Homo sapiens: one gene and its partners. The protein of the gene in region 2 interacts with the protein of the main gene of each other region in a pairwise test. Each region holds a gene or a part of one and is shown on either strand. Other genes may lie near its edges. The genes, in order: ERO1A, EBF1 and MTNR1B.

Region 1 (3,647 bases), on a different chromosome or scaffold from region 2:
GCAGTGGGGGAATCTCGCTCACTGCAAGCTCTGCCTCCCAGGTTCACACCATTCTCCTGCCTCAGCGTCCTGAGTAGCCGGGACTACAGGCACCTGCCACCACGCCCAGCTAATTTTTTTTTTTTTTTTTTTTTTTTTTTTTTTTTTTTTTTAGTAGAGGCAGGGTTTCACCATGTTAGCCAGGATGGTCTCGATCTCCTGACCTCGTGATCCGCCCACCTCGACCTCCCAAAGTGCTGGGATTACAGGCGTGAGCCACTGTGCCCAGCCCTTTGGTTTCATAATAATTCAACCACAGCCCTTCTTTCTGGTATGAATAAGGTAAACAATCAGGTCTTCCTTTGTTAATATTAAATTACTATTACTATTAAAATGCAAAAATATATAAAATATAGTGAATGCCACATACCCACTACCAAGTTTTAGAAAAATTTGTCACAAGTACAATCGAAGCCCCTCATGTTATCTCTCGAGTCCCATATCCCACCCTCTACTACTATATTGAATTTGGCATTGTTCCCTTTTTGTTTTTATGCTTTTAATACATATGTATACATCCATGAACCCTAGAATATTATATCATTTATAATAGGGCGACATGCATCCAGCTAATCTAAACATAGTATATGTCCTTAAGGAATATGGAAAAAAGAAGGGAAGCCAAGAACACATCCTTCTTTTCCTTCAATGGAAATTACCAACTGATCCTCCAAGAGACTCCTGTACTGGACTAAGAGGGGAATCTCAAGCTTACAGTATTCTTAGCAGGAAATCTGACATACATCTCAGATAGAACATCCATTATACAAATTGGCCTATAATTTAGGGAGCACACAGTATTTCTCTTATTCTAATGTGATAAACCACACACTAGGCTCAACCAGATGAAGGCAGGACCACAAATCTAAAATAGGAATAAATCAATGATTGGAACCCACTATTCAAAGGAAACCTCAATTTGCTCTGGAGACAGACTTTCCCAACATGCTTTATTCAGTTTGTGACTTTCAAACAGCTGTAACATGAAAGAAAGTTTTAATAGGATCTAAGATGTAATATCTTTATTAATTAAGACAAAGCCCAAATTGTTCATTGTTACCATATCTTAATAATATTCTCTATCTTGGTTTCAGTACCTGTACAGTAAGAGGTACTATTTTTTTTTTATTTTTATGACCACATGACATCCAAGCAACAGGTACTAATTTTAAACCTACTTAAAACTAACCGGTAATATTACTCTACAAAGATTCTGTGATCTGATTTTAGGTTGCCTTTAAACTAGAGCATTGACCAAAACTTAAAGAAAAATCACACTTTTAACAATAATAACAGAGTAAGAAAGTTACCCTAAAGAACATGTTCCCATCCTATGAGCTGTTGACTTCCAGAAGACTTAATGGTTATTATGAGGATCCACAGAATCCACATAGAGACAAGACTATATACCACAGAATAAATAGCTCACATATATGCACTATAAATTTCCAAATGGATAGAAATGTTATGATCAATAAAACACAACTTTTACTTTTAAAGTGTTACTAAATGCATGGTGGCTTTTTGGCAATCATATTTTCAAAATCAACAGATACTAAAAATACTCTGTCATGAGAAGAGGCCTTGAAAGTTCCTGAGTATAAGAGACTCCCATACTTGTGAGAGTTGGAAGCCTCTGTTCTAAAAGACTGTGCTTGCTTTTGTAGACGCTAATTTCAATGTTTGCTTCTACGTTAATTCAAATACTTGAATGTGACAGCTCTTGAGTAAGTCTTTGTATGACATGTACAGAGAGCAGGCATGGCTGCTTACAATAGCCAAATAAACATTGTAAAATTAAAACCAAGCACATCAAATAGCATGCATCTTCTGCTTAAGTGAACTTAATATGCTAGGACCAAATTAATAGGCTAGAAATTTACTAGATCAAATTAGTAAAAATTAGTAAGGATTTCACAGGAGAAAATCCTTGTGACTTAACAAATAACAATTATGTACAATAACCTGAGTATATCCCCTAATTATCTCAGGTTAGAAAAAGGTATGGTCCTTAAAATAACCAGTACCTAAATCACTTACAGATTTTCCTTGTTTAGACATACAGTTTTAGGTCATCACTTTAAATTACAGCCAGTCAATAGAATGATCAAGCATGCTGTGATTTATATTCAGTGAAACCAACTGACCAATTCTTGCCCAAATTCTCAAATACTTTACAAGTCTTCAAATGAGATCGTATTCTATTTGAATTGAATGCTAAATAATTCTCCTTCATACAAGTCCTCTATTTCTAACCATACATTGATAGGGTACTAAGGAAACAAGATGAGATTTTTAAAATTAATTTGTAAATATGACTGTTTAAATCGATGTTTACCAGAAACTGCTTTTTAAAAAAGTAAATCTTTGATAGTAGCATGTTTTGTTTTTTACATCTTTCCTGTAAAAGATTCAGAAAAATTCTGTTACATCAAGACTCTCTACCTAAACTTCATAGGACATTAAAGGTGAGTGTTTCCGAGTTTTGATCAAATTAAAACATTGTGAGAAATCTTTCTAATCTGCATGATTTAAAAAGAGCTGATGCCAGAACACTTTCCAATAAAGCAGCAAGTAAACTAAAAAAAAAAAGGAACATATTGAAAATAGTAGGAAAAAAAGAAGTCTTATTACAGCATCTTCCCCCTCACTTTCTAGTTCCTGGAAGCTGTTTAGGCAGATTATATAAGCACTGAGGTATGTATTTGTAGCAAGAATGCTTCAAGTAGGAGGTAGATGGGAAGTCAAGAATAAGTATTATCTAACAGCAAAAAAACTGAGTGCATAAAATCAGGTTCTTTCATTACAGAAAGAAAGAATGAAAAGCAGAGGAAGATTTTTGTAAATATTTTGATGAAATCAGGCTGGGTATGGTGGTGGCTCACACCTGTACTCCCAGCACTTTTCGGAGGCCAAGACAGGCAGATTGCTTGAGGCCAAGAATTCAAGACCAGCCTGGGCAACATAGTGAGACCCCAACTCAACAAAAAAATTTTAAAAGTTAGCAGGGCATAGTGGTGCCAGCCTGTAGTCCTAGCTACTCAGGAGGCTGAGGTGGGAAGATGGCTTGAACCCAGGAGTTCCAGGCTGCAGTGAGCTATGATTATGCCTCTGCACTTCAACTCTGGTGATAAAATAAGACTTTATCTCTTAAAAAAACAAAAATATATATACAATATGTATGAAATCAGACATATTTGTATAGAAATCTACCTATACATATCTACCATATCTAGTATCTATCTATATCTAGTATCTTTATTAAGACAAAGCCCAAATTATTGTTAATTGTTACCATATCTTAACAATATTCTCTATCTTGTGTTTCAGTACCTGTTCAGTAAGAGGTACTAACTTTATTTTTACTATTTTTCTATGACCAGATGACATCCAGGCAAGAGGTACTAATTTTAAACCTACTTAAAAAAAAAAAAACTACTCAATAATATTACTCTACAAAGATTCTGTGATATATATATATGATTTCATATGTACATATATATAATTTCATGTGTGTGTGTATATATATGTATGTATATATAAAATCAGATCAAACCCAGTAGTATGGAGGTCCACCTGCCTTTACTTACCAGTGGAACTTTGTAAGA
Region 2 (4,081 bases):
TTACTTTTTCCTTCTCCACGAACCCCACAAACGCTGTCCTCTCGATCTCCACGGGCTGGCCCTGTCTGTCGTAGAGGGCCAGGACGAAGTGGAAGAAGTTGGATTTCCGCAGATTGGAAGGCGGCTGCTTCTCAAAGTGAGCCCGGGCCAGACCCACCCCGCTGCGGCCAAAGACGCAGAGTTAGATGGCTAAACCGGACGCCGACCCGCGCCCCTTGTCACCCTGTACACACACTCGAACCCTCAAACACCCACCTCCTCTTCCCCCAAAACATCCAGTGGGCGCTCTTCACGCCCCTTCAGGCGACATAGACCCAGCTGACAACGGGACACACATGTCCCCTCATGTCCTCGTCCTCTCCGCCAAGGACGGGTGCGTCCTCAGAACTCGCTGAAGAGGTGTGAAAGTTTTGTTTGGGTTTTGCGCGCGAGATGAAACTCTATAAGCATTTACTCCTACCTGACACGCACTGCGTGGGGAGGAAGAAAAGTGGCGGTGGATGAAGTGAACCCACCTTCGCGGAGTAGAACCCACAGTTATATTCCGGCACCCCTCGAATCTCACGTCTCAGCTAGCAGGGCAGGTGGGAATGGATGGAAAACATGCTCGGCGTCTCGCCGCAGCAGCCACCCTCCAGGAACCCCTCAAGCTCTGGCCAACTGCGAGTGCCCGGCCTTGGGAAGCCACATCCCCCCACCACCAAAAAGCATGTGGAGAAGGGTCCGAGGGCGGGGCTCAGAACTGTCGCGGGTGGTCGCTGTGAAAAAGGGAAGAGGGGTGTTTTCTTAAAGACCTGTCCTAACAAAGTTTCGCTGTTCCGCAGAAATCCTCACACTCATTCCAGAAATCCTAAAGGCCAGGGCTGCTGGCTCAGTGCGCCGGCCGGCGATGGGAGGCTGGAGCGCCTGGGGCGCCAGGCGGCCACTGACAGCCGGACCTGCCCAACACAAGCGCGCACAGGCACACACACACACATAGAAGAACACACACGAGCGCCCCGCGCACACACTTTCACTTCCAGCCCAGTTACCCAATTCACTCTCACTACCACCCACCCCCATCCTAATACTCAGTGGGGATGGGAACAGTGTTGGGGACACTTGTCCCCAGCCCAGGGAAGCTGGAGATGATGTAATTAGTCATCTTCCTTCTTCCCCTTCCGCACTCTGAGTCCGATAGGGCCTGGGGCCACCAGATCTCCCACTGTCCCAAGCTCAGCTGGTGGCTTAATGGGGGGAAAAAGGCCATTTCTCACTTGGGACCAGGAGCCTGGGAAAGAGCCTTGGGTGTGCCCAGGAAAGTTCCCTCAGGTCAACCTCCAAGGGCAATGCCTCCAGGCCACACAGTCTAGTGTCTAGGGAGCTGCGAGTGAGAGAAGGGCTGGAAGGGGCCATGGTGACAGGGGCTGGAGAAGACTTTTGGGAGATATCAGAATTAAAGTTGGGAGTTGCTATTCTACCGGTAGACTAAGAAAAAACTGAAAGACAGAGAGGGAGGGAAGGAGAACGAGATAGCAGAAATAAGAGAAGACTCAGGGGAGAAATGGGACGAAAAAACAGGAAAGCCAGAGAGGTAAGGAAAGGAGAAAGAGGAGAAAGGAGGGAAGCTGAAGAAAGAAGAGAAAGAAAATGGAGAGAGGAAGGGAGGAAGGAAAAGAGTGAGGGAGAAATTAAGGGAAGGTGGGGGAAAGAAATGAGAGAAGGAAATGAAAGAAAGAAGAAAGAAAAGAAGGCAGGAAGAGAGACAGGAAAGAACGAAGAACGAAAGAAATGGAAGGAGGGAAGAGGGGAAGAAAGGAAGAGGAAGGAGAAGAGAAGAAAATAAAGGGGGGAGAAAGGAAAGAAGGAAGAAAGAAAAAAGAAAGGCAGGAAGAGGAAAGAGAAAGAAAAAGGAAAAAGAAAAGGAGGAAAGAAAAAAAGAAAGAAAAAGAAAAAAGAAAGAAAAAGGAAGGAAGGAAGAGAAAGAAAGAAAGAAAAAAGAAAAGAGGGAAAGGAAGAGCGAAGGGAAAGAAGAAAAGAGAGCCGGCCGGAAAAGAAAGAGCAATCACATAAAAACATAAAACACAGATCTCCAACATGCTGTGTTGAGACGCCTCTTCTGGGTTAAAACAAAATGAAAACAGTCACAGACGAGGCAGGGGAAAGTGCTGGCAAAGCGTGGGCTCCTCGCAGACAGCTCCAGGTCCTCCGGCCGCAGGCGACGAAGGCAGAGCGGCTGGAGAGCGCGGAGCCCCGGCGGAGAGCGGAGCGCAGCGGCTGCGGACTCACCCCGCCGCCCGGCCCCGCGGCAGCAGCTGCCGCTGCCGCTGCCGCCTCCGCCTCCCGGCTCTCCCGCTCGCGGCTCACCTCGGCCGCGGTCCCCGCGCAGTACCCACCTCTGCGCCGCCGTGTTGGCGTCCAGCACCCCGGCGCCCTGCATCCACGTCCGCACCGCGTTCATGCCGCTGCCCAGCGGCTCTTCCTTCATGCTGCTTCCACTCCGTTGGATGCTTTCCTGAATCCCAAACATGAAAACAACCTTTTCTTGTGGAAAATCTCCTCCCCCTTGAAAAAAATTAAAAAAAAAAAAAAAGGAAAGAAAAGAAAGAAAAGAAAAGAAACAAAAACGCCAACCAGAGATTTTTTTTTTTCTCAGACGATGAACTCGCACTTAGAAGATCAAGGCGGGCTGGAAAGCAAATTTTTAAAAAATGTAAACCTCTGCTCAAAACTGAGCGATAACCCGAAAAAAAGAAGAAAGGGAAAATCCAACGAAAAGACCAAAATAATAAAATTAGAGATGTATGCTTGGCTGTTGGGGGTTGTTTGGTTGGTTGATTTTTGGTTTGGGTGCTTTTTTTTTTTTTTTGCTTTTTTTTTTTTTTTTTTGTAATGATCACAGGCCGGTGGAGGACAGGAGGGGCTGGAGTTTCCTTTTGTAGAGGTACCCTTCACTTGAAGAAGCAGGAAGAAAAAAAAAAAAAAAAAAAAAAAAAAAAAAAAAAAACCCTGATGGCAATTTAAGAAACAATAGACTCAACTCGCGCTGCCGGCTTTGCTACTTCAAGTGTCATTTTCCACAACCAGGCAAGTTTTTTCCTCTCTCTCTCTTTTTTTTTCCTCCTTCTCTCCCAACCAAAGATGTTTCTTTCCTTTGCGTGTAGATGAGGAGGACGCTGGTTGCCGTAGACAGATACACCAGAGAGGGTGGGGGGAAGGGGAGAGAGGGAGAGAGGAAAGGGGGGGAGGGAAAGAGAGATAGAGAGGAGAGGGAGAAAGAGAGAGGGGTGGACCCTGCTGGATGGAGATTCTGTTTTCTCCTTGCTAAAATAGAAGTGATTTGCAGGCTTTCCCTATGGAATCCAGTTTGACTTTCCCCAGAGCTAAACACAGGCACACTAACCCCAAAGGGAGGAGGCGGGGCCCGCGCATCGAGGCCCCGCCCCTTCATTTGCATAACGTCATCTTTCCGCCCACCGCAGCCAATCGCGGCCCGGGAGCCGGCTCGCTGGCGGCGCCAGGCCACGCTCTCTCATTAACATCCCGCTCCCGGTGGCGCAGGGGAGCCGGCCAAAGTTCCTCGCAAAGTGGCGAGCGAAGGAGCGCTGAGCACTGACGTCTGGGCTGGGGAGGAGCGGGTCCGAGCGAGGACGGAGAGGGGACAGAGGGAAAGGGAGGCGGGTGTCTTCCTCAGGAATTTGAGCTGGGGATCTGCATCCTGGCCATTGCAGTCCTTTAGCATCCTCGCCGCGCCCTGAGCGCGCTGGAGGCTCGCAGGCTGCGCCCTCCCAGGGCTGATGCCGCGTCCTGCTCCGCCGTTCTGGGACGTCGGGGACAAAAGTGGAGGAGACGGGAGAGCCCGGGCAGAAAAAGCAGGACGCGCGTCCCAGGTGCCCACCTCTTCGCTTTGAGGCGGGGGCGGTGGGATGGAATATGGGTGCGCGAGGTCGGGGCTGGTAACTCTCGGAGGGGCACGGCCTCCACGCTGGGAGGGATGAATGGACGCTGGGCCCCGGCAAATGAGGCGCTGTGGGTCCCCAGGAAGTGGGGTACCAGGCTCTACTCCCACCCCGGCCTCTGAAACGCTTCTCTCTCGGCCGCT
Region 3 (3,779 bases), on a different chromosome or scaffold from region 2:
GTGATCCTCCCACCTCAGCCTCCTGAGTAGTTAGGACCACAGGAATGGGCCACCATGCCCAGCTAATTTTTGTAGAGACAGGGTTTTGCCATGTTGCTTAGGCTGGTCTTGAACTCCTGGGTTCAAGCTGAGGCAGGGGTGAGGCACCGCATCCGGTGATAGCCCTTCCTTTCTTTGTATATGACTTTTCTCCTTCATTTTATGTAGTTATAATAATAACAAAAGCTAATGATTACTGCCTGCTAGCCACATGTCAGGCACTGTCCTCAGCTCTGCAGATGTGTTATCCCAGAGAATCCTCACAACAACCTGGGAGGCTGACTACGGCATGATCTTCACTTTAAGATGAGTAAACTGAGGAACAGGGAGGTTAGGAGACTTTCCCCAAGTCACACAACCTGAACATGATGGAACCAGAAAAGGAGGCCAAGCGGACTTTGTGCTCCAGATGCTGGAGCAGTGTGACTGTGTGTGTGTGTGTGGGGGGGGGGGGTGCAGTGTGTTTGTGATGTGGTGGCTATGTGTGTGTAACATATGTATGTGTACACAGTGTATGTGTGCATAGTGTGGTGTGTCTGTGGTGTGATGCATGTGTGGTTGTGATTGTGTGTGTGTAGGGAAGGTCAATGGCGGAGTGTGGAATGCTTGCCCTCTGCACCTGCCCCACCTGAGGCCCTTGCAGTTACCAAGTTCCAGTCCTACTGACCTCTCTCTTTCATCCTTGCTAACAGGAAGAGATCCTGCCACGCTGGGGGGAAGGGGAGAAAGCAGCCAGGAGGCCAAGGCAGGAGGATGAGGGTCAGCTATGAGAAGGAGTTGGGCTCTTCTGCCCCAGGCCTTTCCTCATTCTGTCCTTTCCTTGGTCTTGTGTGCACCAAATCCCCAAGACACCACCAAGAGTGTTTTCCAGGTCCTGTGGCCTGTGAGCATCTCCTGGATCAGCCTGAACCCATGGCGTTGATGGGCTGCTTGTCCCAGCATGAAGTTCCCCCAGCCTTGGGGCTGTGATGCCAACAGGACAGTGTGGCCCAGCAGGCTGCCTGGTCTCACCCTTGCAGCAGACTCTCTCCCACCATTTCATGAGTTTGTCATGCTGCTGGTGTGCCTCAGATCCAGGCTAGAGAGCATCTGCCTGGTGCTGCACACCAATGATGGGTGGAGCTGGGCTCTGCAGCCCCTCCGCGTGGCTGCCCTTGGAAGCATCTTGAATGCAGTGCCGTGGGTTCCAAAGGGCCAAGAGGATCCTCTTGTATTCCCTGCGGAAGTTTTGGTTCAAGAGCCCATAGACAATGGCATTCAGGCAGCTGTTGAAATAAGCCAGTAAGTAGCTAGTGACAAATAGCCCCTCAGGGATCTGGGGAGCCATTTCTTGGGGGTTGATGGCCACAGCGAGGCCGATGCAGTTAAGTGGAGCCCAGCAGATGGCAAAGATCACAAACACCACAAACATGGTTAGAAAGCTCCGCAAGTCGCTGGGCTTCAGGCACAGCCTGCTCTCTGGCTTGGCTTTCCTGCGGGCCTGAAGCACCAGCACCCAGATGCGCAGGTAGCAGAAGGACACGACAGCGATAGGGAGGAGGAAGTGGATGACCACCACTGCCGCCGTGTACTGGGTGCTGGCGGTCTGGATGAAGGTGCAGGAATAGATGCGTGGGTCGTACTCCAGGGACCCCACAAAGAAGTTGGGCAGCAAGGCCACCACGGTGAGGAGCCAGATGAGGCAGATGTGCAGAGGGGTGTGCCAGCGCCGGTAGATTCGGTGGTAGGCCATGCTGTGGCAGATGTAGCAGTAGCGGTTAATGGCGATGGCAGTGATATTGAAGACAGAGCCGATGACGCTCAGGCCCATCACAAAGGCGCTGGCCTTGCAGTGCTCCTCCCCCAGGGCCCAGCCGTCATAGAAGATGGCCACGAGGATTAGCGGGTAGGGGTAGAAGGCCACCACCAGGTCAGCCAATGCCAGACTCACCAAGAACAAATTACCTGAAGCAGCAAACAGAGCAACAGTCAGCACGAGACCCCACGACTTAGATTCTGTAGAACATCCTACCCTCCACGAAGTTACTTTTGGCAATGTGAGTGGAAACCAAGTGGCTCTTAGAGGCACAGAACTGAAGACTCAGATTGCATTTCTGCCACTCACTAGCTATATGACTGAGGCAAGCTGTTTAGGCTCTCAGAGCCCCATTTTCCTCATTTGTGAACTAGGGGCAGTGATACCTACCTCATAGTATAGCTGTAAGAATTAATGATACAAAGTGCTCAGGGATTTAACAGGTGCTGACACATGCTAACTGTTTCCATGATAGGCACAGATGCTCACGGGCTTTGCACCATTTAAGCTCCAGCAAAGATTTCGGAGGAGGAGAGTCTGAAAGTCAGGAGTGTGGATTTCTCATCACTATCATCGCTCCCTCACATTCCCTCACCTCCTCGCACATCTCTCTGGTTGTCTCCTTTTGCATTTTCTCCCCACTGGTTAACAGGCTACTTTCTAAGTGTCTTTACATGGGTTTTGTAAATGTGAATTGCATTTTGCAGCTGGACTAGAAGAAAGGTGTTGAGAGTGGGAACCATGTGTTTCTGGTATTCCCATTTGTGCCCTGTCTGGGTCCAGTACTCCCAGCCTTGTGGCCATGTTGACAGACACTTGCAGTAGCGGCACAGAGCCCCAGCCCTGTGGGGTGAGAAAGGGCTGTCAGCACTCCTAAGCTCACAGCCTCTGGGGGGCCTCCCTGCTTTGCCTGCACCATGGTGGCCTTCCTGGACTATCTAGGCATTTATCCTTTGAATGGAGCCTTATCCAACATCACCAAGCTTGGTCAACCAGAGAGAGCCTCAGGAAATGATACACCCATCAATTAATATGCTTCAGGCATGTTCTAAGCTGGAGTCCCAGGGCAGAGGCAGGGCTTACTCTAAAAGAACACAATCTCTGCTCCTCAAGTGTTTGCGTTCTAAAACCAACACTGACTCACGAATAGAGCACCAAGAACCTAAACGTTTGGGCAATACAAAGCTCATAGTGTGAGCAGTTCCATCACTAATGCCAATCTTCTCATTCACCAAGTGTTGTACTTTTTGAATACCTACTGTATGCTCAAAAGATAACAGACTCTCCCTCCAGCAGGGTCCCTGAGTGATGCAATGTGCACTGGGCATGGTATTTTAAATTTTCTGGTCTCTTGCCACATGGTGAAGCCTCCAGCCTTAGGGTGGCGGAATGCAGAGGGCGGCTGGGATGGTGTGCAGGAGGAACTCCCAAGTCAGCAAAGACACAGACATGGAAACTCCACAGCCACCATGTGTCTGTCCCATTGCCACAGAGGCTGTGGTGGCTTTGGGGGTCTAGAGGGTCAGGCAGGTGGAAAGAGCCCCCAAAGCACAGCAATTGGAGAGGCCAGGCTCTGTGTGGATTCCACGGGGTACAGAAAAAGGGAGGCTGAGAGCCGCCCAGCTGGGATTTCACCTGAGTCAGCCCTTCAAGTGAAGTAGATGGCACACCTGGACTTATTCACCCACAAGGGTAGGAAAAGGACTGCCTCCAGCCTTCCCACATTCACCCCATCTCAAAGAAGATTCCCCATAGCATGGTCCGAATGGGGATGGGAACTTGAAAGACCCTCAGGAAGCCTTCATGAAGGGCCTATTTTGACCTCAGAGGAATGGGGTCAACCCCACTGAGAACCCACACAAGTCTACTGGAGTCCTGGGAGTTCTCAAGACCTAACTATAATACTACTGTGTCCACAGCTAGGTTAGGAAACCAGGGAGACAGG

The links.
Region 1: the proteins of EBF1 (region 2) and ERO1A interact in a two-hybrid assay, tested with the Homo sapiens proteins (one large-scale study listed by BioGRID and IntAct).
Region 3: the proteins of EBF1 (region 2) and MTNR1B interact in a two-hybrid assay, tested with the Homo sapiens proteins (one large-scale study listed by BioGRID and IntAct).

Annotation. Positions count from the first base shown.
Region 1 is NC_000014.9:52,647,030-52,650,676, forward strand, and holds part of ERO1A (ERO1-like protein alpha isoform 2 precursor), read right to left. Parts: intron 1-3,647. UniProt on the Homo sapiens protein: Oxidoreductase involved in disulfide bond formation in the endoplasmic reticulum. Efficiently reoxidizes P4HB/PDI, the enzyme catalyzing protein disulfide formation, in order to allow P4HB to sustain additional rounds of disulfide formation.
Region 2 is NC_000005.10:159,096,970-159,101,050, forward strand, and holds the start of EBF1 (transcription factor COE1), read right to left. Parts: upstream 2,948-4,081; 5' UTR 2,510-2,947; coding exon 2,376-2,509; intron 988-2,375; exon of another isoform or gene 276-987; coding exon of another isoform or gene 256-275; intron 162-255; coding exon 5-161; intron 1-4. UniProt on the Homo sapiens protein: Key pioneer transcription factor of B-cell specification and commitment. Recognizes variations of the palindromic sequence 5'-ATTCCCNNGGGAATT-3'.
Region 3 is NC_000011.10:92,979,651-92,983,429, reverse strand, and holds the end of MTNR1B (melatonin receptor type 1B), read right to left. Parts: intron 1,984-3,779; coding exon 1,118-1,983; 3' UTR 648-1,117; downstream 1-647.